Linked DNA regions of Homo sapiens. The protein of the gene in region 5 purifies or fractionates together with the protein of the main gene of each other region. This does not show direct contact. Each region holds a gene or a part of one and is shown on either strand. Other genes may lie near its edges.

Region 1 (3,500 bases), on a different chromosome or scaffold from region 5:
CAATCCCCAGAGGTTTTTGTTTTTTTAATTGAGCCAATATTTTAAAAATGAGAAATTGCACATAAAAATCTGGGACTCCATCTTCTTGAGAGAAATCAACATTAGGCCCACATTCATTCAGTTATGACAGTAGTAGCTGGGGTGAAGGATACTGTCTCTGGTTTACAAAACCTCTGTCACTCACATAGTATATGTGTGTGCAGTTCGACCCAGCCTGGATCATTCACTCATGGCATCTGCTTTCTTGGTACCTGTCAGCATTTGAGTTTGCTATATCTATGGCAGACAGAAGCCACTGAAAGTGTTTAAGTAGGAGGATGGACCTGATCAGCTTTACATTGTAAACATCACCTGCCTGCCATGGAGAGAAAGAATTAAGAGACAGGGAGCACTAGAAGCAGGGCTGTCATGTAGGAAGACTAGATGAGGATCTGAATTGGTTTTGGGGATGAGGAAAAAGAAGACAGGCTAGAAAACTATTTAGGGTGTAGGACTGATAGCACTACGTGACCTAATATGAGGTTTCCATACATGAAGCGGGTAGAAGGGAAGGAGGAGCCAAGACTAATGTCTCAATTGGTGGTTTTTGCCAGTGTGTAGCTGGAGCTTCCATGTCCTGGTTTAGGAAACACAAGAGGAGAGATGACTGTTTGGAGAAGGAAGAGAAGTAGTTCAGTGTGGGACCCTATCTGAAGGTATACACAGGACATCTAAATGGAGAATCTTGGAAGATTGGAAATGTGTCTTTGGATCCATGTTGGAAGCATGGATTTGGAGTCATCAGTCTTTTATTTTATTTTTCATTTATTTATTTTGAGACAGGGTCTTGCTTTGTCACCCAGGCTGGAGTGCAGTGGCACAAAATGGCTTACAGCAGCCTCTACCTCCCAGGCTCAAGTGATCCTCTCATTGCAGCCCCCTACATAGCTGGAACTATAGGCACAACAAGCCACTGCACCTAGCTGCACACACACAAACACACACACACAATTTTTTTTTTTAGATGGCGTTTCACTCGGTTGCCCAGGCTCACTGCAACCTCTGCCTCCCAGGTTCAAGCAATTCTCCTGCCTCAGCCTCCCGAGTAGCTGGGATTACAGGCACCAGCTATGACAACCGGCCAGTTTTTTGTATTTTTAGTAGAGACGGGGTTTTACCATGTTGTCTAGGCTGGTCTTAAACTCCTGACCTCAAGTGATCCACCCGTCTCGGCCTCCCAAAGTGCTGGGATTACAGGTGTGAGCCACCGTGTCTGGCGCTACTTTTATATTTTTTATAGAGATGGGGTTTTGCCATGTTGTCCAGGCTGGTCTCAAACTCCTGAGGTGCAGTGATCTGCCTGCCCTGGCTTCCCAAAGTGCTGGGATTACAGGCATGAGCCACCGTGCCTGGCCAGCCTTTAGATGGCAGTTGAAGCCTTGGGAGTAGGTGAGCTCACACAGGGAACATGTACAGTAAGGAGAGAAGAAGCATAGGATAGATTTCTGGGGAACCCCAGCAGACACAGGTAGGATGCTGTAGAGAAAAGAAAAGAAGTCAGAGGGGGTGATGCTACAGCAGAACAGGGAGGAGACAGCTACAAGTAGGACAAAGGGTAAACAGTGGCACACACTGCAAAGAGCTTATACAAGATCCTACTTGAAAAGCCTCATTTAACTTAGCAACAAAGATGTCAGTTGGTCACCTTGAAGAGGGGAGTTTTGAGGGTGAGGGCAGCAGAAACCCTGATTGCAATTCAAGAAGGAAGTGGGGAAATGCAGAAAGACACCCGGGGAGTGTCCATGCCACAACGTGGTTGTGGTTTGGAGAGGATAATAGGACAGGCATATCGGATGGAGGAAAGTAGGCTTGTTTTTCCTGATTCTGTCTTGAACTTCTTCACTTACATTTTCATTGAGAATAAATATGAGGGGCTAGGCTTTCACTTAGTGAGCTAATAATTTGCACATCTGGACCCACCTGTGTTTTTGTTGGATTTTGAATTTTACGAAATCGTTTTAGAGGCCGGGTGCAGTGGCTCATGCCTGTAATCCCAGCACTTTGGGAGGCCGAGGCCTGAGGTCAGGAGTTCAAGACCAGCCTGACCAACATGGCGAAACCCCGTCTCTACTAAAAATACAAAAATTAGCCAGGTGTGGTGGCGGGTGCCCGTATTCCCAGCTACTCGGGAGGCTGAGGCAGAAGAATCGCTTGAACCCGGGAGGCAGAGGTTGCAGTGAGCTGAGATCAAGCCATTGCACTCCAGCCTGGGTGACAGAGCGAAACTCCGTCTCAAAAAAAAAAAATTGTTTTAGAGAATGTAGTTTGATTATGGATGGCACTCTGCATGTGGGTTGCCTAGCCGATGTTAAGTGATTTTTAGATTGCTTTTGTCCCTTTGTACATTGGTTTAACAGGATTGCCCCCGCGATGTTACGCCAGGCATCCTATGGCACCATCAAGATAGGCACTTACCAGAGCTTGAAGCGACTATTCATTGAACGCCCAGAAGGTGAGTGGGGAATCTGTTTTCCACTGTGGACAGGAGGTTGGTTGTCTGTCTTTTTATTCAAGTGGTTTTGGAGCAGGTTTTCTTCAGCTTATTTGTGACTTTCCTACTGCTACAAGAACTCTGGGTGTAAAGTCTTAGTTAATTGTGCTGAAAGCAAGTTGGTTATCAACTCAATTGAGGGGAGAAATAATGAAAAGGAACCATCTCTGCAAACATTTTAATTAGTTGTCCCCATCTCCAAAATGCCTAGACCAGGGGATGTGTTGTTACTATTCCATCCAACTTAAAATTTGCTAAAATCATATGAATTGTCATCTATTTTTCAGGAAAACAGTGAATACATTTCTTAATATTAACAACACTGAATGCTAATACTCTGGCTTTTTGGTTCTGTGGCTTTGTTTTGATCCATAGAACTGTCCATCTTCATCTCTTTTCACAATGGGATGAGTACCAGACACTATTATGTAAGAGTGGTGAACAAGAGCTAAGATGCTTTGGAAATACTTCAGGATATTTCAAACTAAATACATACGATGTGCTTTAAAAACTTTCTGTGCCAAATAAGTCGTCATGTTATCTCATAGGAATTATTGTCCTAACAGATATAGCTCATCTTAATTATGATGGTCTGAATTTATACATAAATGTGAACTGGGGCTGGGTGCGGTGGCGCGTGCCTGTAATCCCAGTGCTTTGGGGAGGCTGAGGCGGGCAGATCACTTGAGCCCAGAAGCTCCAGACCAGCCTCGGCAACATGGTGAAACACCATCTCTACAAAAAATACAAAATATTAGCCAGGCGTGGAGGTGCACGCCTATAGTCCCAGCTACTGGGGAGGCTGAGATGGGAGGATCACCTGAGTCCAGGAGGTCGAGGCTGCAGTGAGCTGTGATTGTGCCACTGCACTCCAGCCTAGGTAACAGAGTGAGACCCTATCTCAAGAGAAAAAAAATAAAATCACATTTAGATATCAATAAATTTTGCAAAGCAAAATTCCTTCATTAGT
Region 2 (3,500 bases), on a different chromosome or scaffold from region 5:
ATGGAACAAAGTTTTGACTGCATTTTGACTGTGACCATCGGTCATGTGGAATTTTCCACTTGTAGCATCGTGTCGGTGCCCACAATGTTTTGGATTCTGGAGCATTTCAGATTTTTGGATTAGGAATGTTCAACTTGTAGTAACAAATATCACCCGAGGTCTGAGTGTTAGCCCTGGAGATGGGTTATTCCCCAGAGTCTCACCCTTCCTCCCCTCTACATATGACCAACAAAGTTTGAGCTGATAGCAGTAAACTAGACAAGAATCTAAAATATCTGATTCTAAGAAATTATTTTAGTGACAGCTACAGATTCTATAACAAATACCCCCAAATTCAGAGGCACTTTTAGTAGTAAGAGAAGAGCCAGTCAGTACTGTGACTTTTTTTTAACGTATCTGAACTAAAGTTCAAAGTTCAAAGGACTGTGGTTAGGAAGTATAGCAGCATACCACTTAAAGAGATTAATCTGCACAGAGTAAGAGGAAAATGCATGTCACAATGGAAGAAATAAAAGTGACAACCTCAAAAAAATCGATCTTGGTCATCTGCCTCTCAGATGTTACAAAATAGCAATCAACAAATATTTGCAATAGTTTAAATTCTTAATTCACTTTCTAGTAGTTTCCTAGTAGACTCTTTCTACCCCTCTCTATAATATACTAGTGTTTTTGTTTTGAGTTTCAAAAAGGCAATATTCACCTATTTATATATATTCTCCGTGATTGTTTGAGGCATCAACAGATTTCTAGGTGAAGAAACCAAAATAAATGTTTTCAATTTATGTTAAAAGTTACATTTCTTGGTAAAGGATTTTTCCACACTGGTTTTTATTAAATCAAGCTGTATAACTAGCATCCTGTCCCTAGCCCAGCACCCTGCATGAGGTAGGTGTTCGATTCATGTTTGGCTCTGGTGAGGGGTATACGCTGTCGGAACCCACAGGGTATCACTGAGTCCTAACGAACGATGTAAGTCAAAGTGAACAAAATAGCAAGATTTGTAGAAAAGCTAGAAACTTGGCTATAATCAAGGATGGAGCAATGAGAAATGACCTGGAGAATGGGGGCAGGAGGTTCCTGCAAAGAAAGAAGACAGTAAAAGGCCAGGCAAAGAAGATTCGGTTTTTATAAGAGAAAGGCTGGGGAGGGACCCAAGGTGGTTGTTGAATGATAGATATCATCATCACAGAGTGACTTCTCTAAGAGTTCAAGTCCAAGGCAACCACTGAGAAGGGTATTTTCTTTCACACGCATCTCTTTTAAACCTCTGGTTGAGATTTAAATCATTTTTTATATATATGCAATTTTTAGGAAAAGGAACCTTTCCATTTTTTGCAGCGACCTCTGGTAGGAATAAACTCTCCTCTGGCGTGAAATGAACTCATACTTCCCTGGTACCTACGTATATTGGCAAATTAGCTGTTCCAGGGCGTGAGAGCTGGGAAAAGGGTTCAGCCACCCAGGAGAAATTGTTCTCTCCTCCCTAGCAGTGCTGCCATTGGAAAGAACCTGACTGATCAGGAGGCACTGGGCTTGAGCGGCTTTGAAAGCAAACAAACTTACTGTTGTCTGCAGATGGTAATTTCTTGGTTCTGTTAATTCTGTTGGGGAATGGGGTCCCTTTAGATTTCTATCAGGTGTTAACAAGAGGTAAATGATACGAAAGATCATCTTGGTTTCCCAGACTGAATGGTTTTAAAAGCCTTTTCTGGTGTAAAAGCATTTGAAGGGAAAAAAAATATTGTGGGAAAATGTAATGCCACCCTTTCTTAGCTAAAACAGCTTCATATAAGCAAGTTGTCCGTCAGGAATGAATACATCACAGTAGCATGGACGACAGCGGGTCTATTTGAGACCAGAGCTTGTCGGGGAGGCTGCAGTCCCCTTTGACACACAGCCAGCACTTTCTTCAGCAACTGTATAGAAAGCCTTTTCTGTCGCGGGTATTATTGATCTTCTTAAGGGAGCATAACTCATGCTCTCCACTTTGCATTTACAGGGTGAGCAAATCAGATAGACATTTTCGAAAAGGGCTTTCAAGTACTTCTAAATTAGGCTGGCCATTTAATTTACATATCTCAGATATAAAAGTCTCCATTGTTTGGAATGCATGTGTTCGTGCATAGAAGTTGTTAACCCTGGAATAAAAGATGCCTGTCATAGCTTACATGTTGAACGCTTCCATGGCAAATTACCTATTTTCAGGAGCTGGCAGTATTTTCAGATATTTTCCATCTTAATTAAATCTTATGTTGTTTAGTTTAAAACTGCATTATTCTGTTGTTTCCTGACTTTTTAATGATCGCCATTCTAACTGGTGTGAGATGACATCTCATTGTGGTTTTGATTCGCATTTCTCTAATGAACAGTGATGATGAGCTTTTTTCCATGTGTCTTTTGGCTGCATAAATGTCTTCTTTTGAGAAGTGTCTGTTCATATCCTTCGCCCACTTGTTGATGGGGTTGTTTTTTTCTTGTAAATTTGTTTGAGTTCTTTTTTTTTTTTTTAAGTTTTAGGGTACATGTGCACAACGTGCAGGTTTGTTACATATGTATACATGTGCCATGTTGGTGTGCTGCACCCATTAACTCGTCATTTAGCATTAGGTATATCTCCTAATGCTATCCCTCCCCCTTCCCCCCACCCCATGATAGGCCCCGGTGTGTGATGTTCCCCTTCCTGTGTCCATGTGTTCTCATTGATCAATTCCCACCTATGAGTGAGAACATGCGGTGTTTGGTTTTTTGTCCTTGTGATAGTTTGCTGAGAATGATGGTCTCCAGCTTCATCCATGTCCCTACAAAGGACATGAACTCATCATTTTTTATGGCTGCATAGTATTCCACGGTGTATATGTGCCACATTTTCTTAATCCAGTCTATCATTGTTGGACATTTGGGTTGGTTCCAAGTCTTTGCTATTGTCAATAGTGCTGCAATAAACATACGTGTGCATGTGACTTTATAGCAGCATGATTTATAATCCTTTGCGTATATACCCAGTAATGGAATGGCTGGGTCAAATGGTATTTCTAGTTCTAGATCCCTGAGGAATCGCCACACCCACTTCCACAATGGTTGAACTAGTTTACAGTCCCACCAACAGTGTAAAAGTATTCCTATTTCTCCACATCCTCTCCAGCACCTGTTGTCTCCTGACTTTTTAATGATCGCCATTCTAACTGGTGTGAGATGGTATCTCATTGTGGTTTTGATTTGCATTTCTCTGATGGCCAGTGATGATGAGCATTTTTTCATGTGTTTTTTGGCTGCATAAATATCTTCTTTTGAGAAGTGTCTGTTCATATCCTTCACCCACTTTTTGATGGGGTTGTTTTTTTCTTGTAAATTTGTTTGAGTTCATTGTAGATTCTGGATATTAGCCCTTTGTCAGATGAGTAGGTTGCAAAAATTTTCTCCCATTCTGTAGGTTGCCTAGTCACTCTGATGGTGGTTTATTTTGCTGTGCAGAAGCTCTTGAGTTTAATTAGATCCCATTT
Region 3 (3,500 bases), on a different chromosome or scaffold from region 5:
ATGGACGTGTGCATACATACACTCACTTGGTCACCAGTTTACTTACTCACATAGGTGCAGTGCTGGGGAAACACCTAGGAGGGCTGGCCCAGTTGGCAGAGTCAGGGAAGGAGGGCATCACAAAAGAAGGAAGCAAAGGGGACCTTGAAGGATGAGTTCTGGAACCTGAAAAGGCAACAAGGCTTTCAGCTAACTTGATTGCATCAGCTCTTTACATCTCTGTAATTTGGTTGATGAAAGCATTGTGTGTTCCAGAGTGTCAGTTGACCTAACATCTTTGATTTACTCATATTGAATGTGCTAGGGTTGTCATAACTCTTGAATGCATCCTTTTTCCCTGTGTTTAGAGCAGCCTTGCTAAGGGCTGGGACCCAGGGTAGTAAGGTTTTTCTGCTCATGTCTTCCAGTATTAGGCCCATTGTTGAGGGAGATTATTTTTTCAGTCATAAAAAGGCATAATTTGTATTGCTAAATATGGTGCTCCCTCCTTGACTATTTTTGTTTCATGTACACTTAGTAAGTCACTGTGGGCCCACTACTGTTTTCTAAATATTAAGGGAAAAGAATATTCCTTAATCATCTTAAGGTTCGATCTGATGCTTGAGAAGAAAAAGGGAATATATTTAGACTGAGTAGCTCAGGATAAAAATTTGGTATCATCAAATAAAATATATGAACTTAGCTAATTGTGATATGCAGAGCCTCTTAAGTATGGTTTTTTGTTTTTTTAAGTTATGGGATATGTTAAAGTTTTTTTGTTTGTTTGTTTTTTGTTTTTGTTTTTGTTTTTTTTTTTTGAGATGGAATCTTGCTCTGTCACCCGGGTTGGAGTGCAGTGGCACTATCTCGGCTCACTGCAACCTCCACCTCCCAGTTCAAGCGATTCTCCTGCCTCACTCTCCTGAGTTGCTGGGATTACAGGTGTGTGCCACCACGCCTGGCTAATTTTTGTATTTTTGGTAGAGACGGGGTTTCACCATGTTGATCAGGCTGGTCTCGAACTCCTGACTTCATGATCTGCCTGCCTCTGCCTCCCAAAGTGCTGGGATAATAAGGAAAGATTTTTAATGAAAGTCCGTGCCCTGAATTTATTTAGAAGAACAAACACTTGTTCTTTCTGCCAATAACCTTATGTTATCTTTTTAATATAAGACATAATATAGAATGCCAAGCTTGGAGGCCTCTGATGAATTGTAATGGACCACCTGTTTCTCTTCAACTTAGAGAACATTCCCATTATGTTATGAATGCATAACATTGCCAGTTATATATTATTAAAATTATCACTATATTGCTCTCAAAATTGTATTGGAATAAAACTGTATGCTAAACTTCATTAAACTTTAATCAGAGTTTTGCTTTTCTCAATATAGTGCTTACCAGCGAGGGTATTGTTTTCATCTCAGACTTCTCCCCATCCAAGCCTCCCTCAGGCCCTGGGAAAAAAGTTTACATATCCAGCCCACACTCTAGCCCAGCTCATAACAAGCTGGCCACAGCCACAGGTGCCAAGAAAGCTCTAAATAAAGTAAAAATTTTAATCACTCAAGAGAAACCTAGGTAAGTTACAAGTGTAAAATTAACATTCATCTACTTATCTGGTATGAAAGCATCATTTTTGGAGATGTACAAAGACTGATGTTTTTCTTCATCTCACTTTTTCTCATTTCTAATTTTGAATTTATTAGAGGAAAAAAATATTTATTTTTGTCCCCTGCCCTAAGAGGAGATTCAGCATTTAACATTGCCTTTGTTTCCACTAGCTGTGCTAAACTTCCCCACTGACTTTTATAGATTAAAATTTTTGAATTCTGATTTTTACTTGTGAAAATCGCAATGATCCTAAAGTTCAGGCAATTGAATGCATTAAAAATTTGGGCACAAAAGCTGGATACTCATTTTAAATACATTTTCCTGACTTAGGTGCTGTGCATTCTCATTCAGCAGTAAAATCGGAGTGTTTTTCTTATGCAGGTGAAGATGTCTCCCATCCTGGTTAAGAGCCAAGGCTCCGGGGGAAGCTTTAGCTATGAGACTGAGAAACTTCTTTAATCTTACTCAAATTTCTCTCTCCCAGTCTCTAAAATAAGGCTTTAAAGTATTTCATAGGGTTGTTTTAAAGATCAATAGATCCAATAATGTAAGTAAAGCATGTAATGTCATTGATACATAGTAATTTATTTAGAAGATGTCGGCTGTTATTAAGAAATTACAACTGAATAAAAGTTTATTTTAAGTAATTTGATGTATTCAAAATAGGTTTCTTTCTTTTTCCTATAGCAATAATCTGTATATTATTGCTTTGGCAGGCTTTTTTGTTTGTTTTGGCATTCATTTTCAGATAGCCTTTATTTTTAATATGCCAAGATTACTCTCTCTAGGCTTGGTGAGTAACTACTTGAAAAATATGTGGTAAAAATATAAATTGCTCTACAAATACATTTTGCACTTGTGTGTAAGTATCACTTCTATATATTAAGCCATAGGCTGGTTAAGTTCACTAGTTAATTTATCTCTCACCCTGTGCCAAAATGACTTAAGATTACTTCTTAAGTATCTTAAGAGAACTTTCTATTTTTTATGTATTCCCTCTCATAAACAAGAAATTATTTGGCAGTCTGAATAGTTTTATAAGTTATGTTTTATATTTCTTAAGTTTTCTCTCATATGAATTATATGTATATCTTGAGTATTGGGGAAATACATTATTTCTTCAAGTAGAACCGCTCTGGGTGCTTTCACATCTATTAATTCCTGGACTCTTACTACAATTCTGGCAGTAGTAATATTCCCATTTTACAAATAAGGAAAACTGAGTCCCACACCAATTTAAATAAAGTTACTCAAGCTCACCCAACTAGGACATGGCAGTCGGGATTTTAATGCAATAAAAATTCCTCTTTCTAGTCTTGTGAACTAACTTTATTTTAAATTTCAAAGCCTTTTAATAAAATTATGTTTGTAAAATGAAATGTAAAATGAAAATAGTACATAATTGTATGTCTATTCCTATTGAAATATATTTAATATAGAAAAGGTCATTGAATGTATGCAACAATCACAAATTATTAAAATGATTTTTCAGACCCTAACAATCTCTTAAAATCCTTATAGTTTCACCTGTTTTATTTACACACAAGAAAATGCTGCAATATAAGTGAAACTTTGTTTCAAAAAAGATTTAAGACAGCTTAAAAGTGAATGAAGGCAGCCAAGGGGAAGTTACTTGCCCAAAGCCATACAGATAGTCCAGTAACTCCTGGTCCAGGGGCCCTAATTACCCTAAATGTTGATGTTTTTCATCCTGAGTCTTGATTTTAACAGTTTGCCTAGTACTTTTAATGACAAAGTAAAAGTAAAATAAAACTGTCTTATGCATGCCAGCTATTATTATATTATCATTTACCATGTCTTGTGTAATATTAATAACTTAATATTCTACTACTTAATATTTCAAAAACTTAGAAACACTGACATTTCTACCCATCCTATACAATATT
Region 4 (3,500 bases), on a different chromosome or scaffold from region 5:
TTACCAGCTTCCGTATGCGGTCCAGCACCAGGTCAATGCTCTCCTTGCCCACCGTGTAGTGGCCCCGGGCATAGTTGTTGGCTGCATCCTCCTTTCCTGTGATCAGCTGCTCTGGATGGAAGAGCTGGCGGTAGGTTCCTGCCCGAACCTCATCTTCCAAGAGAGGAAGACCATTAGGTCCTACTGCCCAGGGGAGAAGCCTCCCTCCCTACCACACTACCGCAGGACCCCTTCCGTTCTCCCCTACCTATAAAACTCCATGGAGGTTTGAAGCCAGACCACCTCGTAATGAATCTGCAAAAGGCTAAGAGAATTCCCGGGTAGCTCAGGGACTAACAGAGCCAAGGCCTGTGGCTCATGTGGGCGGTGAGAAGCAGGCTGCCCTGCTGGCTAGAACCCTAAAAAGACTTAGCTTTACAAAGCTCATCGAACATCGCCGGGCCCAGTGGCTCACGCCTGTAATCCTAACACTTTGGGAGGCCGAGGCGGGCAGATTGCCTGAGCTTAGGAGTTCAAGACCAGCCTGGGCAACACGGTGAAACCCCATCTCTACTAAAATACAAAAAGTTAGCCAGGTGTGGCAGCGTGCGCCTGTAGTCCCAGCTACTCGGAGGCCTGAGGCAGGAGAATCTCTTCAACCTGGGAGGCAGAGGCTGAGGTGAGCTGAGATCTTGCCACTGCACTCCAGCCTGGGCAACAAGACAGAGCGAGGCTCCATCTCCAAAAAAAACACAACAGCAACAAAACTTGGGCCGGCCGGGTGCAGTGACTCACGCCTGTAATCCCAGGATTTTGGGAGGCCAAGGCAGGCAGATCACGAGGTCAGGAGATCGAGACCATCTTGGCTAACATGGTGAAACCATGTCTCTACTGAAAATACAAAAAAATTAGGCAGGCGTGGTGGCCGGCACCTGTAGTCCCAGCTACTCGGGAGGCTGAGGCAGGAGAATGGCTTGAACCCGGGAGGCGGAGCTTGCAGTGAGCCGAGATTACGCCACTGCACTCCAGCCTGGGCGACCGAGCGAGACTCCGTCTCAAAAAAACAAACAAACAAAAAAACAAAAAAAAAGCTCATCGAACACCAACGCCAATTGCCTCTCCTCCCTTCCACCTTGACTCCTCCAGGTTTCCCTTTTGTTTTTTCTTTCATGCTGCAAGGTGTACCAACAATTTTTTTTTTTTTTTTTTTTTTTTTTTTGGAGACGGGGTCTCGCTCTGTCGCCCAGGCTGGAGTGCAGTGGCGCGATCTCGGCTCACTGCAAGCTCCGCCTCCCGGGTTCACGCCATTCTCCTGCCTCAGCCTCCCGAGTAGCTGGGACTACAGGCGCCCACCACCACGCCTGGCTAATTTTTTGTAATTTTAGTAGAGACGGGGTTTCACTGTGTTAGCCAGGATGGTCTCGATCTTCTGACCTCGTGATCCACCCGCCTCGGCCTCCCAAAGTGCTGGGGTTACAGGTGTGAGCCACCGCGCCGGGCCAAGGTGTACCAACAATTTAACTTAAGTCCTTTTGCATTAAAATATTCTAGGGACATGGAGAAAGATTCAGGATGATCTGCCCAGAACCTAGACCCCCAAGAGTTGTCCCACCCCTCAACTCCACCTCATGGTGGCAATAATATATGTCAGGCATTAGACATATTTTAGAATAATGGGAAGCAAAGCTATGTTCCAAGTCATAGAGGAGCAAGAGCCCTAGAGAGGCCTTTAAGGGGTCTCTGCTCACTTCCAAGGGTCCACACAAAGCGGATACAGAGCAGATCAAGACACATCAGGCCCCAACTATGTCACCTCTTCTCTTCGGGGTTCCTCTACTCCCTGCAGAAAAATCATCTGTGCAGTGGCCCAGGAGGTAACCTGCACTTTGTGCATTGGTGCAAAGCATCCAGGGGGTGGAGCATCTGCCCTCTGTTGCCCCTAGACATTGGTGTCCAGGCATATACTTCGTGCCCAGTCCTCTTTGCAGAACTGTCCATCTCTGGCTTGAGGAGCCAGGCTTGGAGCTGGGGAAATCCTGATATTCAACTGAGAGTTGACCCAGGGGTCAGAAACAGGGGAAGTGGCACTACTGGGGGATAGTGTGGGAAGGGGAGATCTGCCTAGACACAAGGCAGAATTCCTGTGTTTCCTAAACCTGAATGAACCTCATTCCAGAACTCCAGCGGCCCCTGGCTGTGAAGCAATGTGCCTGCTGTGATAGGCCCCTTTGTGTGTAAGATGCTGTGAGGTTATACCCACCCCGAGGGCAGACTCAGAAACCTATACTTAGGGAAATTGCTCACTTAGGGGTGTCTTATAATTTCTAAAATTATTTGGATTTTCTTATCCTTAGTATTTAGTAGCGATGTGACCATTTTGACCTGGTGCCGCAGGTTTTGGGGTTGAAGTGGGAGGCATTTTGTTCTGCATAGAGTCTTGATCACTGTCATGAGATTCCCCGAGACTGTGGGGACCCCAAGGAGCTGACAGATGTCACGTGGGGTGGGAGGCTGCGGTTGCACCATCCCCACCTTCCAGCTAGAGACGCTGCTTCCTTAGCTACTGTGGGCCAATGCCTCTGCAGTTTCGAGATGTTCTCTGTGGAGGGGAACTCCGCCCCCACTCACCCACTACAGTAGGCTCCAGATCTATCATGACGGCCCGGGGCACATGCTTCCCATTGCCAGTCTCGCTGAAAAAGGTGGTGAAGGAGTCATCATCGTTGATCTTGCTAGCTTGAGCATCAAAAGTGCCGTCTGCCTGGATGCCGTGTTCCAGGCAGAAGAGCTCCCAGCAGGCATTGCCAATCTGAACTCCCGCTTGGCCCACGTGGACTGATATGCATTCCCGCTGTGGGGAGAGGGAAGCAACGAGGTCAGAGAGTCTGGGCCCCCAGCATGCCTTTGCCCTACATCCCCATAACATTCACCTTGCAGGCCAGCCAGGCCCCAGCCCCCCATTGCCAGTTGGCGTTGAGGCTGCAGGTGCCCCAGCTCTATAGCAGCTGGACCAGGACTTAGATCCAAAGAAGACACAGCTGTTTTGTGCTTTGCTCTAAAGGTTGCTTCCCAGGGTTGACCTTTTATACCAGGAAAGAAAAAAGGAGGGTGGTTGCAAAGATGAAGCAAGGGGCTAATTCCAAACCACAAGATTCCTGCACTGGTGAAGAAGGCCCAAGGAAGAACTGGCGATCATGGCAGAAACTCTCCTTCAGCCTACGCCCACACAAGGCAGCATTCACAGCTGCTCCTGACCCTGACTTTCTGACATTGTGCACACATGCACACACACAGTCTCAGGATATCACAGAGCAAATGAGCACTCATGAAAGGAACATGCTCTGGAAGTATGCGCCATGGCTGTCAGTAGTATCATGGTTACCAATGTAGAAATAAAGGATTATTTATTACCCCAAGAGAGGATGGGGAGGGTATAAATTAGGCCCTTCCTGCACGCTGAACAATTGGAAAATCTTTGCAGCCCCATAGCCTGCCCCTTGCCTATGCCAGGCCAAGTGTTA
Region 5 (2,514 bases):
CTGATCTCTCCAACCTTCTCTCTCCCTCTTGGACACTGCCTGCATCTTCCTGGACTTCACTTCCCTGCCCTCCACTCTTCCTTTGCCTCCCTCCTGTACCTTGCGCCGTGCTGCACTGGGGGACTCCTGAGCAGGACCACAGCTTTTGGCTTCCTGAATGCCCTGTGTAAGCTGGCAGCTGTGCTGGGGATCAGCATCTTCACATCCTTCGTGGGAATCACCAAGGCTGCACCCATCCTCTTTGCCTCAGCTGCCCTTGCCCTTGGCAGCTCTCTGGCCCTGAAGCTGCCTGAGACCCGGGGGCAGGTGCTGCAGTGAAGGGGTCTCTAGGGCTTTGGGATTGGCAGGCACACTGTGAGACCAACAACTCCTTCCTTCCCCTCCCTGCCCTGCCATCCTGACCTCCAGAGCCCTCACTCCCCACTCCCCGTGTTTGGTGTCTTAGCTGTGTGTGCGTGTGCGTGTGCATGTGTGTAAACCCCGTGGGCAGGGACTACAGGGAAGGCTCCTTCATCCCAGTTTTGAGATGAAGCTGTACTCCCCATTTCCCACTGCCCTTGACTTTGCACAAGAGAAGGCTGAGCCCCATCCTTCTCCCCCTGTTAGAGAGGGGCCCTTGCTTCCCTGTTCCAGGGGTTCCAGAATAGGCTTCCTGCCTTCCCCATCATTCCCTCTGCCTAGGCCCTGGTGAAACCACAGGTATGCAATTATGCTAGGGGCTGGGGCTCTGGTGTAGACCATGGACCAAAAGAACTTCTTAGAGTCTGAAGAGTGGGCCTCGGGTGCCCTCTCACATCTCCTGTTGGATGCTGGGGGAGAAGCAATAAACCTCAGCCCTCTGGCCTCCACTTTCCTCTCAATTTGGGCTGCAAATATGAAGCCTGAATTTTATGAAATTAGCTTTCTGATTCTTATTTATTAATAGATTAAGTTCTGAGGCAGCTCCGCAGGACTGTGTGTGAATGTGTATGTATACTTACATATGTGTGTGCATGTGCCATGGGGCGGGGGGTATCACTATACTGTCCTCAAATATAAGCCAAGGGTAATTTCAGCGGATGCACACACAACCCTGCCTCCCACAGTTCCTCCCCTAATCTGGTTTCTGTGTTGAGCCTGGGATGGAGGAGCCCTAGGCCAGCCTGGGATAAGAGTCCCACAGTCTAGGGAGATCTGAGGGCATCCGACAAGGCCCATCTCCTTCCCTCCTCAAGAAGCAGAGGCCTCCTCTGGAGTGAGAGGCTCCACCCACTACAGCACAGGCGGGAATAGCACAGCTGCCCTCCCATGCTCCCTACCTGTCCCCTCACAGGGAGGGGAGCAGGGGAGGGAAAGAAACCAGGCATCTGGTCAAACCAGCAGATCAAAAAGCACAAAGAGCTGGGGCAGAGGCAGGAAGCAGGGGCCCTCCTGGCAGCTCCTCTGAGTGGGGAGAGGTTGGGCAGTGAGTGAGGGACCCCTAATGCAGGGACTAGAAGCCTCAGTTTCCCCATTTTACCCTTCCACACAATAGCCTCTGTAGGTTAGGCTGCCCCATCCCACCCTACTCTGTGTGGCTGCTTTCTTTGGTGCCCTCCCCTCACCCCACTGTAGCTGTGACGTGTTGTAGTTTTTAGATGTTTGTAAAATGTTTAAAAAAATGTTAAAAGGAAAAAAGTGAAAATAACAAAAAAGAAAATCAAAATTCACCTTCGTCATGCTGCGTCCAGTGCCCCAACCCTGTGGTCACTCTCCCCATTTTGTAACACTGTACCAGGTGGTGACTGTTTAACTCTTTGGTGTCTGTGCTCAAAAGACTGCCTTCTCCAGTGCCCAGTGTATGAGTGTGTGCCCTGTGCCCTTGTCCCTCACTCCCCACATGCTGGACGTAGCCCTCTTCCTCGCACCCCTGGGAGGGACCCATCCATCTCCCTTGCTCTCCTGGGGAACCCTAAACCCAACTCTGTTGATGTGAAAAATGCAGTGAAAAATATTGACGAAAAATAAAACGGAAACAAATCCTCAAAATACAAAATGGCTATACCTGCTTCTGTGACTCTCCACCTACATCCAATTCTCCTAACAGCCTTGGAGGGTAAAATGGTGAGATGGACTGAAGGTCAGAATAACATGGTGTACCAGATTTACTTCCTAAATTGGCCTCTCTACCTTGATCTTTCCCCTACAGATGGAGGGCCCTCTAAGTCTCCCAGATTTGAAAACTTTGGGAGTAATGTTTCATAAGAATAGAACCAACTTTCCTCTAAATCTTCTGGTATGCTTTTTAAAAATATAGACCCCAGACTCCACTCTTGACTTGTTGAATCAGAACCCTTTTTTTTTTTCTTGGTTTGGAAGGATAGGGACCTTGAATCTACGTTTTTTTTTTTTTTTGAGACAGAGTCTCGCTTTGTTGCCCAGGCTGGAGTGCAGTGGCGTGATCTTGGCTCACTGCAACCTCCGCCTCCCGGGTTCAAGCGATTCTCCTGCCTCAGCTTCCTAAGAGGCTGGGATTACAGGTGCCTGCCACCACAC
Region 6 (3,500 bases), on a different chromosome or scaffold from region 5:
GTTCGAGACCAGTTTGGCCAACATGGTGAAACCCCGTCTCTACTAAAAATATAAAAATTAGCCAGATGTGGTGGCGCATACCTGCAGTCCCAACTACTCAGGAGGCTGAGGCAGGAGAATTGCTTGAACCCAGGAGGCAGAGGTTGCAGTGAGCCGAGATGGCATCACTGCACTCCAGCCTGGGTGACAGAGCAAGATTCCGTCTCAAAAAAAAAAGTATGTAGCCGTTTTCAATCTTAATATAAGTGTGTAATTTGCTAAAACATTAGTGTTGTGGTTTCGTATTACATTGTCTTGTTATGTACAGATAAGGAAAGTTTTTGATTATTTTTTGCACTGGACCCTCATAAAAAGTGATTGCCTAGATGACACTAGAAAATTCTAAGAAAAGTTTTCAGAGTCTCTACCTACTTGAGATTAATAAACATGTCTTTGGAGGCCAAACAATTAACTATGCACAGGTAGAGATTCCTTTTCTTTTGGGAGAATACAGTCTGTATGGGCATGTATTTAGAAGTACTTAACAGAGGAAGAGCTAGCTTAAGTTCCTTAATGAGAAGCATTTGGCTTTAGGAAATCCTAAGGTTTGTGAGGAACCTAGAAAATGACTTTGACATTCATTGGCTACAGTTATTTTCTTTGACTTTTCACATGTATTTCCCTTTAAAAGAAGTCATTGTTAGTCTAGGAGATTTGAGTACTGATAGTGCCTGTGAAGTGGAGGAGGGGGAATAGTTGGAGTCAGGAGATTTCTTGGAGAGGTAAAAGGATCATGATATGTGTAGGCTAAAATAGAACTCCTCCCACCCCCCAATAAAAAATCTGGGATTGGTGTTGGGAGAGATAATGGGGTAGATAATGAGGAATTTCTGCCCTCGGTGTCCATTGGCATACTCTGTACTGTAGTTACCCAGAGTTGTTTCCTGCCAGGCACTCAGTGCTTTTAATAGATGGAGTTGCAATTTACCGTAATATAATCATGAAATTGATAAATAAAGAAAAAACAGTGATAGGAAGATTTGAAATACAGAAGACCAGGTTTAAGGATTAACCACTTACATGGTATTATTTTAATATTAATTGTATATTATTTTTTTCCATGATGGCATCTTAAAGCTTTAGTGATTTTTATTTTTATTTTTATTTTTTTGAGACAGAGTTTCACTCTTGTTGCCCAGGCTAGAGTGCAATGGCGCAGTCTCGGCTCACTGCAACCTCTGCCTCCGGGGTTCAAGCAATTCTCCTGCCTCAGCCTCCTGAGTAGTTGGGATTACAGGCATGTGCCGCCAAGCCTGGCTAATTTTGTATTTTTAGTAGAGATGGGGTTTCTCCATGTTGGTCAGGCTGGTCTCGAACTCCCAACCTCAGGTGATCCGCCCGTCTTGACCTCCTAAAGTGCTGGGATTACAGGCATTAGCCACCATGCCCAGCTGATTTTTTTTTTTAGGAAAAATTTTTCCAGGAGCACCAGGCAAGTATTTAGGTTTTTTTTGCTTGTTTGTTTGTTTTGAGACGGAGTCTCCCTCTGTCACCCAGGCTGGAGTGCAGTGGCGTGATCTTGGCTCACTGCGACCTTCACCTGCCGGGTTTAAGCGATTCTTCTGCCTCAGCCTCCCAAGTAGCTAGGACTACAGGCGCGTGCCACCACGCCCAGCTAATTTTTTTTGTATTTTTAGTAAAGACGGGGTTTCAACATATTGGCCGGCCTGGTCTCAAACTCCTGACATCGTGATCTGCCTTCCTCGACCTCCCAAAGTGCCAGGATTACAGGCGTGAGCCACCATGCCTGGCTGTATTTAGTTGTTTTAAAAATATGTGCTGGCCAGGCGCGGTGGCTCATGCCTGTAATCCCAGCACTTTGGGAGGCTGAGGCGGGGCAGATCGCTTGAGCCCAGGGGTTAAGACCAGCCTGGGTAACAGGGTGAAACCCCATCTCTACAAAAAATTAAAAAACTAGCCGGCATGGTGGCACGCGCCTATAGTCCTAGCTACTCAAGAGGGTGAGGCAGGAGGATTATCGCTTGAGCCTGGGAGGCGCAGGTTGCATTGAGCCGAGATCTCACCACTGCACTCCAGCCTGGGTGATAGAGCGAGACCCTGTCTCAGAAAAAAGAAAAAGTGCTAATTCTGTACAGGATTTAAGGTATCAACTATATCTAAGTTAAACCCACGTTATTTTAACTGAACTTAAATTTTAAAAGTTAAAAATTTAAGAATCCATATATTGTGTAAGTAATTTTCATCTCCCTGTTTTCATATTCACCTCAGTAGTTGCGTATTGTAACCACAGTAGTATACTGGTAATAGTAAAAGAAATTCTGTCCTAAAAGAACTGAAAATTGAGTTCAAGATATTAAGAATTATCTGTGTAGGTGGGATTATGGGTGATTTATATATTTTTTGACATTTAGTTTTTCTGTAATGAGTATGCATTACTTTTGTTAGGTCCATTCTTAGAATCTTACTGTAGTCACTGATTTTATAATAGAAATATATTTTGATGCCGGGTACGGTGGCTCACACCTATAATCCCAGCACTTTGGGAGGCTGAGGCAGGTGGACCACGAGGTCAGTTCAAGAGCAGCCTGGCCAAGATGGTGAAAGCCCGTCTCTACTAAAAATACAAAAATTAGCGGGGTGTGGTGGCAGGTGCCTCTAGTCCCAGCTATACTGGGGAGGCTGAGGCAGGTAATTGCTTGAACCCGGGAGGCGGAGGCAGAGGTGAGCCAGGATTGTGCCACTGCACTCCAGCCTGGGCAACAGAGTGAGACTCCATCTCAAAAAAGAAAAAGAAATATATTTTGAAAGAAAGCTATAGTGATGATGTAATAGCTAGGAAAATGTAAGGCAATATAAAATGATATCTTAGAGATATTGATAAGCTGGAGCAGCAAAACTACCCAAGTGCTAGGGCATTATTTAGAGTATAAAAATGAATTCATACCCCCATTTCTTTTCTTTTTTTTTTTTGAGATGGAGTCTCGCTCTGTTGCCCAGGCTGAAGTGCAGTGGCGCGATCTCGGCTCACTGCAAGCTCTGCCTTCCGGGTTCACGCCATTCTCCTGCCTCAGCCTCCCAAGTAGCTGGGACTACAGGCGCCTGCAACCACACGCGGCTAATTTTTTGTATTTTTAGTAGAGACAGGGTTTCACCGTGTTAGCCAGGACAGTCTCAATCTCCTGACCTCGGGATCCGCCCGCCTCAGCCTCCCAAAGTGCTGGGATTACAGGCGTGAGCCACCGCGCCCAGCCTCATATCCCCCATTTCAAACACGCTGTAAACAATGCTCAATTACTTTCCTCTTAAGTTGAAACCACCAATTACTGGGGAAAGGGGCAGTTAGATTTTATTGGTTGACTTTGTGTTTTTACTAATCCTTGTTGAAAAGTAGAGGAATTGGTTTAGTTGAGAAAACAAAATACTAAAAAATCTGCCACTAGACTTTTTAAGTCAAGAGTTTGTATAAAATGAAACATATCTACTATCTAATCTATAAAATT
Region 7 (3,500 bases), on a different chromosome or scaffold from region 5:
CTAAAAATACAAAAAATTAGCTGGACGTGGTGGCGGGCGCCTGTAATCCCAGCTACTCAGGAGGCTGAGGCAGGAGAATCACTTGAACCCGGGAGGCAGAAGTTGCGGTGAGCTGAGATTGCACCATTGCACTCTGGCCTGGGCAACAAAATTGAAACTTCTTCTCAAAAAAAAAAAAGAATGCCTCTTGGGCAAGCAGTCTGTGCCAGGCTGGAGAATGGTGAAAAAGGTGAAAGGGAAGGCCAGGTACAGCCGCGGTGGATATTAGTCAGTCTGAAAGGCACTTGGAGAGAAATAAGATTTACAAATGTAGGGTGCTCCAAAAGAGTGGAATGTCAAGTGTGTCTCCTAGTTCTTTGTTAGGCAAAGTCTGATTTCCTCACCGCCGTTACCCCTCCGGAAACATACTGTGGTGTCCGAGAGTTACACCATGTTTACATTGTAATGTCTTGGAGAGGGAAGCTCACTGAACTCAAAAAATATCCATTTGCAAAAGAAAAAAAGGATATGTAAAATACAGTGACTGTGTGTGTGTATGTATATGTTTAAAATATGCAAAAAAGGAGGGAAAACTTATTTTTCAGAAGGAAATAACGTTGCTATGCAACCCATATTTTGAAAGTTGTGAGCCAAGAGTATGTGTGTGTTTGCACCCAAAAGCTAATCAAGGAAGACTTGAGACACAGGTAGTCTTCTGTTTCTTGTCCCCAGATGTTTATCTTGAGGCCCACTGTTCCCTCTCTGCAATGAGGCATAGAGTGAAGGCTCAGTCCGGAAGCCCTGGCCCAATCTGGGCTGTAGTCACAGCTAAAGTGACAGTTTGTCAGAATGTCCCCTTTTCTGGGGGAGCTCACAGGACTTTGATCCAGTTCTTTTTCTTTTGAGATGGAGTTTCACTCTTGTTGCCCAGGCTGGAGTGCAATGGTGCGATCTTGGCTCACCACAAACTCCGCCTCCCAGGTTCAAGCAATTCTCCTGCCTCAGCCTCCCAAGTAGCTGGGATTACAGGCATGCACCACCACGCCCGGCTAATTTTGTATTTTTACCCCGTAGAGACGGGGTTTCTCCATGTTGAGGTTGGTCTTGAACTCCTGACCTCAGGTGATCCGCCCGCCTCGGCCTCCCAAAGTGCTGGGATTATAGGCGTGAGCCACCGCTCCTGGCCCCTTTTCCTTTTTTCTTTTTTTTTAAGACAGGGTCTTGCTGTGTCACCCACCAGGTCTGGAGTACAGAGGCACAGTCATGGCTCCCTGCAGTCTTGAACTCCTAGGCTATAGCAATCCTGCCTCACCCTCCTGGGTAGCTGGGACCACAGACATGTGCTACCATGTCTAGCTTTGGTCCAATCTTTTGCTGGCCACTTACTGAGACAGGATTTGTACATTCTGTGAGGACCCAGGCTCGTTTCTCGATAGCTTTCCCATTCCTATGCCATTGCTGACCCGTGTGCAGTGAACCTCACCAGGCCCAGGAAGCAGGGACACTGGCCTCTGTCAGGAGTTGGGCCTGGAGGTGAAGGGACAGACCTCACAGAAGGCTCTTTGTTGAGGCAGCGCCCACAGTGGCTAGAGCTTCTCTGGGGTCATCTCCTTCCATGGGCTGAAGGAATTATGGCAAGGGTCCAGCTCATCCTGGCTTTAAAAAAACAAAACCCCAGTGGCCTTGTCAGAAGTGGCCTGGATGCTGAGGCTGGTGGCAAAGATTTCTCAGTTCTCACCAGGGCCAGACTGTGGTGTTATCCAAACAGTGCAAGTGTCATCTGAGGACTCCATCACAGTCAGGCCTGATTCAAAAGGGAAGGTGGTCTGTGCTTTCAACAAGTCCCCCCAGGGTTTCTGACCCACAGCTTTGGGGAGGTTAATGCCTGGCCAGTCCTGGCTGGTGGACACAGGAGATGAGTCCAACCCTGGCTCTGTTCCTAGTGGCTGTGCCTTTGTCAGAAAGGCCCTTCCGGCCAGGTGCGGTGGCTCATGCCTGTATTCACAGCACTTTGGGAGGCCAGGGTGGGAGGATTGCTTGAGCCTGGGAGTTCAGGACCAAACTGGGCAACATAGTGAGACCTCATCTCTACAAAAAAAAGAAAGAGCTGTGCATGTGCCTGTAGTCCCAGCTACTTGGGAGGCTGAGGTGTGAGGATCACTTGAGCCCAGGAGTTCAAGGCTGCAGTGAGTTATGATCATGGCTCTGCACTCCAGCCTGGGCAACAGTGAAACCCTGGCTCTTAAAAAAACAAAACAAAACAAAAAAACCTTCCTATCTCAGGTTCTCAGTTGCCCAGGCTAGAATGCTGTGGCGTGATCTCTGCTCACTGCAGCCTCCGCCTCCTGGGCTCAAATGATGCCCTCATCTCAGCCTCACAAGTAGCTGGGACCACAGGCATGAGCCACTATGCCTTGGCTAATTTTTGTATTTTTTGTAGAGTTGAGGTTTTGTCATTTTGCCCAGGCTGGTCTCAAACTCCTGGGCTTAAGCGATCCACCTGCCTCAGCTTCCCTAGAGTACTGGGATTACAGGCCATTTTCTCCATCTTGAAAGGAGAGGTTCATGGATAGGTGGTTTCAAACTGGGTGCCTCAGGAGTAGGGCTGGGGATGGAGTGAGTGGGCTCCGGGGTCCCACCGCCCGCTGTTGCTGATTTTACATCCTGGTGCTCTTTGTGCCCTTAAAGTGGCTGGGGTTGTATCCCAGTTTACCCAGCTCTGACATCCAGGTGCTTTGGCTGAAGGCTTGAGGGCCTCCTGGGGTCTCTGGCCCCATGTGGCTCCGCCTCTCTGGGCCTGTTTCTGTTTTTGGGCTGCCTCAGGACCCATCCTGGCCCTGACTGAGGCAAGAGCATGACCGTTGAGATTGCCCCAGCAGCAGCATTTCCTCACTCAGTGTGAAGACACTGGCCACCCTGGGGTGGCTTGGTTCTCTGCCCGAGTGACCTCTCCTCTGCAGGGCTGGTGGTCGGTGTTTTAAGAAACTGGAAGTGAAGTACAGCACCTAGTTAGGATCTGGCTGAGACTTTGTCGTGGCTTCCTATGGACTCTAACTGATGTCCGGCCCCTGTTGTGGCTCTGACCCCTCAACATTCATTGTCTCTTGTGGCAGGCTTGTTGTCACTGTCGCCTAGTTCCACAAAATCAGGAACTCCCTTCTTGCCACAGACCAGTTTGCCCTGGGTGCTGGGGACACTTCTAGAGGTCAGGGACCTGCACAGAGCTAGGTCCTCAGGCAGGCTCTGCTCCTGCCCTGAATGGAGAGGCAAGGTAGGGGAGAGAGGATGTGCTGGGAGCTGGGGTGAGCCCACCTGCAGATGGGGGTTGCTCAGAAGTCAGTTGCATTTGTGCACTGGGTGGAATCTCCGAGGACTACACAGCTGGAAGGGAAGTGTGGACGCCCAAGAACTTCCTCTACTGAGCTCTCCTAGCACCTTTTTCTTCATTTATTTGTTTGTTTGACAGAGTCTCGCTCTGTCACCCAGGCTGGAGTGCAGTGGGGCGGCGATCTTGGCTCACT

The links.
Region 1: the proteins of SV2A (region 5) and SLC25A30 purify together in Homo sapiens (affinity purification with mass spectrometry; one large-scale study listed by BioGRID and IntAct). This does not show direct contact.
Region 2: the proteins of SV2A (region 5) and JPH1 purify together in Homo sapiens (affinity purification with mass spectrometry; 2 studies listed by BioGRID and IntAct, with this or other methods). This does not show direct contact.
Region 3: the proteins of SV2A (region 5) and WDR11 purify together in Homo sapiens (affinity purification with mass spectrometry; 2 studies listed by BioGRID and IntAct, with this or other methods). This does not show direct contact.
Region 4: the proteins of SV2A (region 5) and TUBA8 purify together in Homo sapiens (affinity purification with mass spectrometry; one large-scale study listed by BioGRID and IntAct). This does not show direct contact.
Region 6: the proteins of SV2A (region 5) and HELLS purify together in Homo sapiens (affinity purification with mass spectrometry; one large-scale study listed by BioGRID and IntAct). This does not show direct contact.
Region 7: the proteins of SV2A (region 5) and TKT purify together in Homo sapiens (affinity purification with mass spectrometry; one large-scale study listed by BioGRID and IntAct). This does not show direct contact.

What each region holds. Positions count from the first base shown.
Region 1 is NC_000013.11:45,404,874-45,408,373, reverse strand, and holds part of SLC25A30 (kidney mitochondrial carrier protein 1), read left to right. Parts: intron 1-2,396; coding exon 2,397-2,491; intron 2,492-3,500. UniProt on the Homo sapiens protein: Antiporter that transports inorganic anions (sulfate, sulfite, thiosulfate and phosphate) and, to a lesser extent, a variety of dicarboxylates (e.g. malonate, malate and citramalate) and, even more so, aspartate.
Region 2 is NC_000008.11:74,255,541-74,259,040, reverse strand, and holds part of JPH1 (junctophilin-1), read left to right. Parts: intron 1-3,500. UniProt on the Homo sapiens protein: Junctophilins contribute to the formation of junctional membrane complexes (JMCs) which link the plasma membrane with the endoplasmic or sarcoplasmic reticulum in excitable cells.
Region 3 is NC_000010.11:120,861,362-120,864,861, forward strand, and holds part of WDR11 (WD repeat-containing protein 11), read left to right. Parts: intron 1-1,373; coding exon 1,374-1,560; intron 1,561-3,500. UniProt on the Homo sapiens protein: Involved in the Hedgehog (Hh) signaling pathway, is essential for normal ciliogenesis.
Region 4 is NC_000022.11:18,120,809-18,124,308, reverse strand, and holds part of TUBA8 (tubulin alpha-8 chain), read right to left. Parts: intron 2,831-3,500; coding exon 2,608-2,830; intron 154-2,607; coding exon 5-153; intron 1-4.
Region 5 is NC_000001.11:149,902,818-149,905,331, reverse strand, and holds the end of SV2A (synaptic vesicle glycoprotein 2A), read left to right. Parts: intron 1-134; coding exon 135-318; 3' UTR 319-2,014; downstream 2,015-2,514. UniProt on the Homo sapiens protein: Plays a role in the control of regulated secretion in neural and endocrine cells, enhancing selectively low-frequency neurotransmission.
Region 6 is NC_000010.11:94,548,788-94,552,287, forward strand, and holds part of HELLS (lymphoid-specific helicase), read left to right. Parts: intron 1-3,500. UniProt on the Homo sapiens protein: Plays an essential role in normal development and survival. Involved in regulation of the expansion or survival of lymphoid cells. Required for de novo or maintenance DNA methylation. May control silencing of the imprinted CDKN1C gene through DNA methylation.
Region 7 is NC_000003.12:53,249,523-53,253,022, reverse strand, and holds part of TKT (transketolase), read left to right. Parts: intron 1-3,500. UniProt on the Homo sapiens protein: Catalyzes the transfer of a two-carbon ketol group from a ketose donor to an aldose acceptor, via a covalent intermediate with the cofactor thiamine pyrophosphate.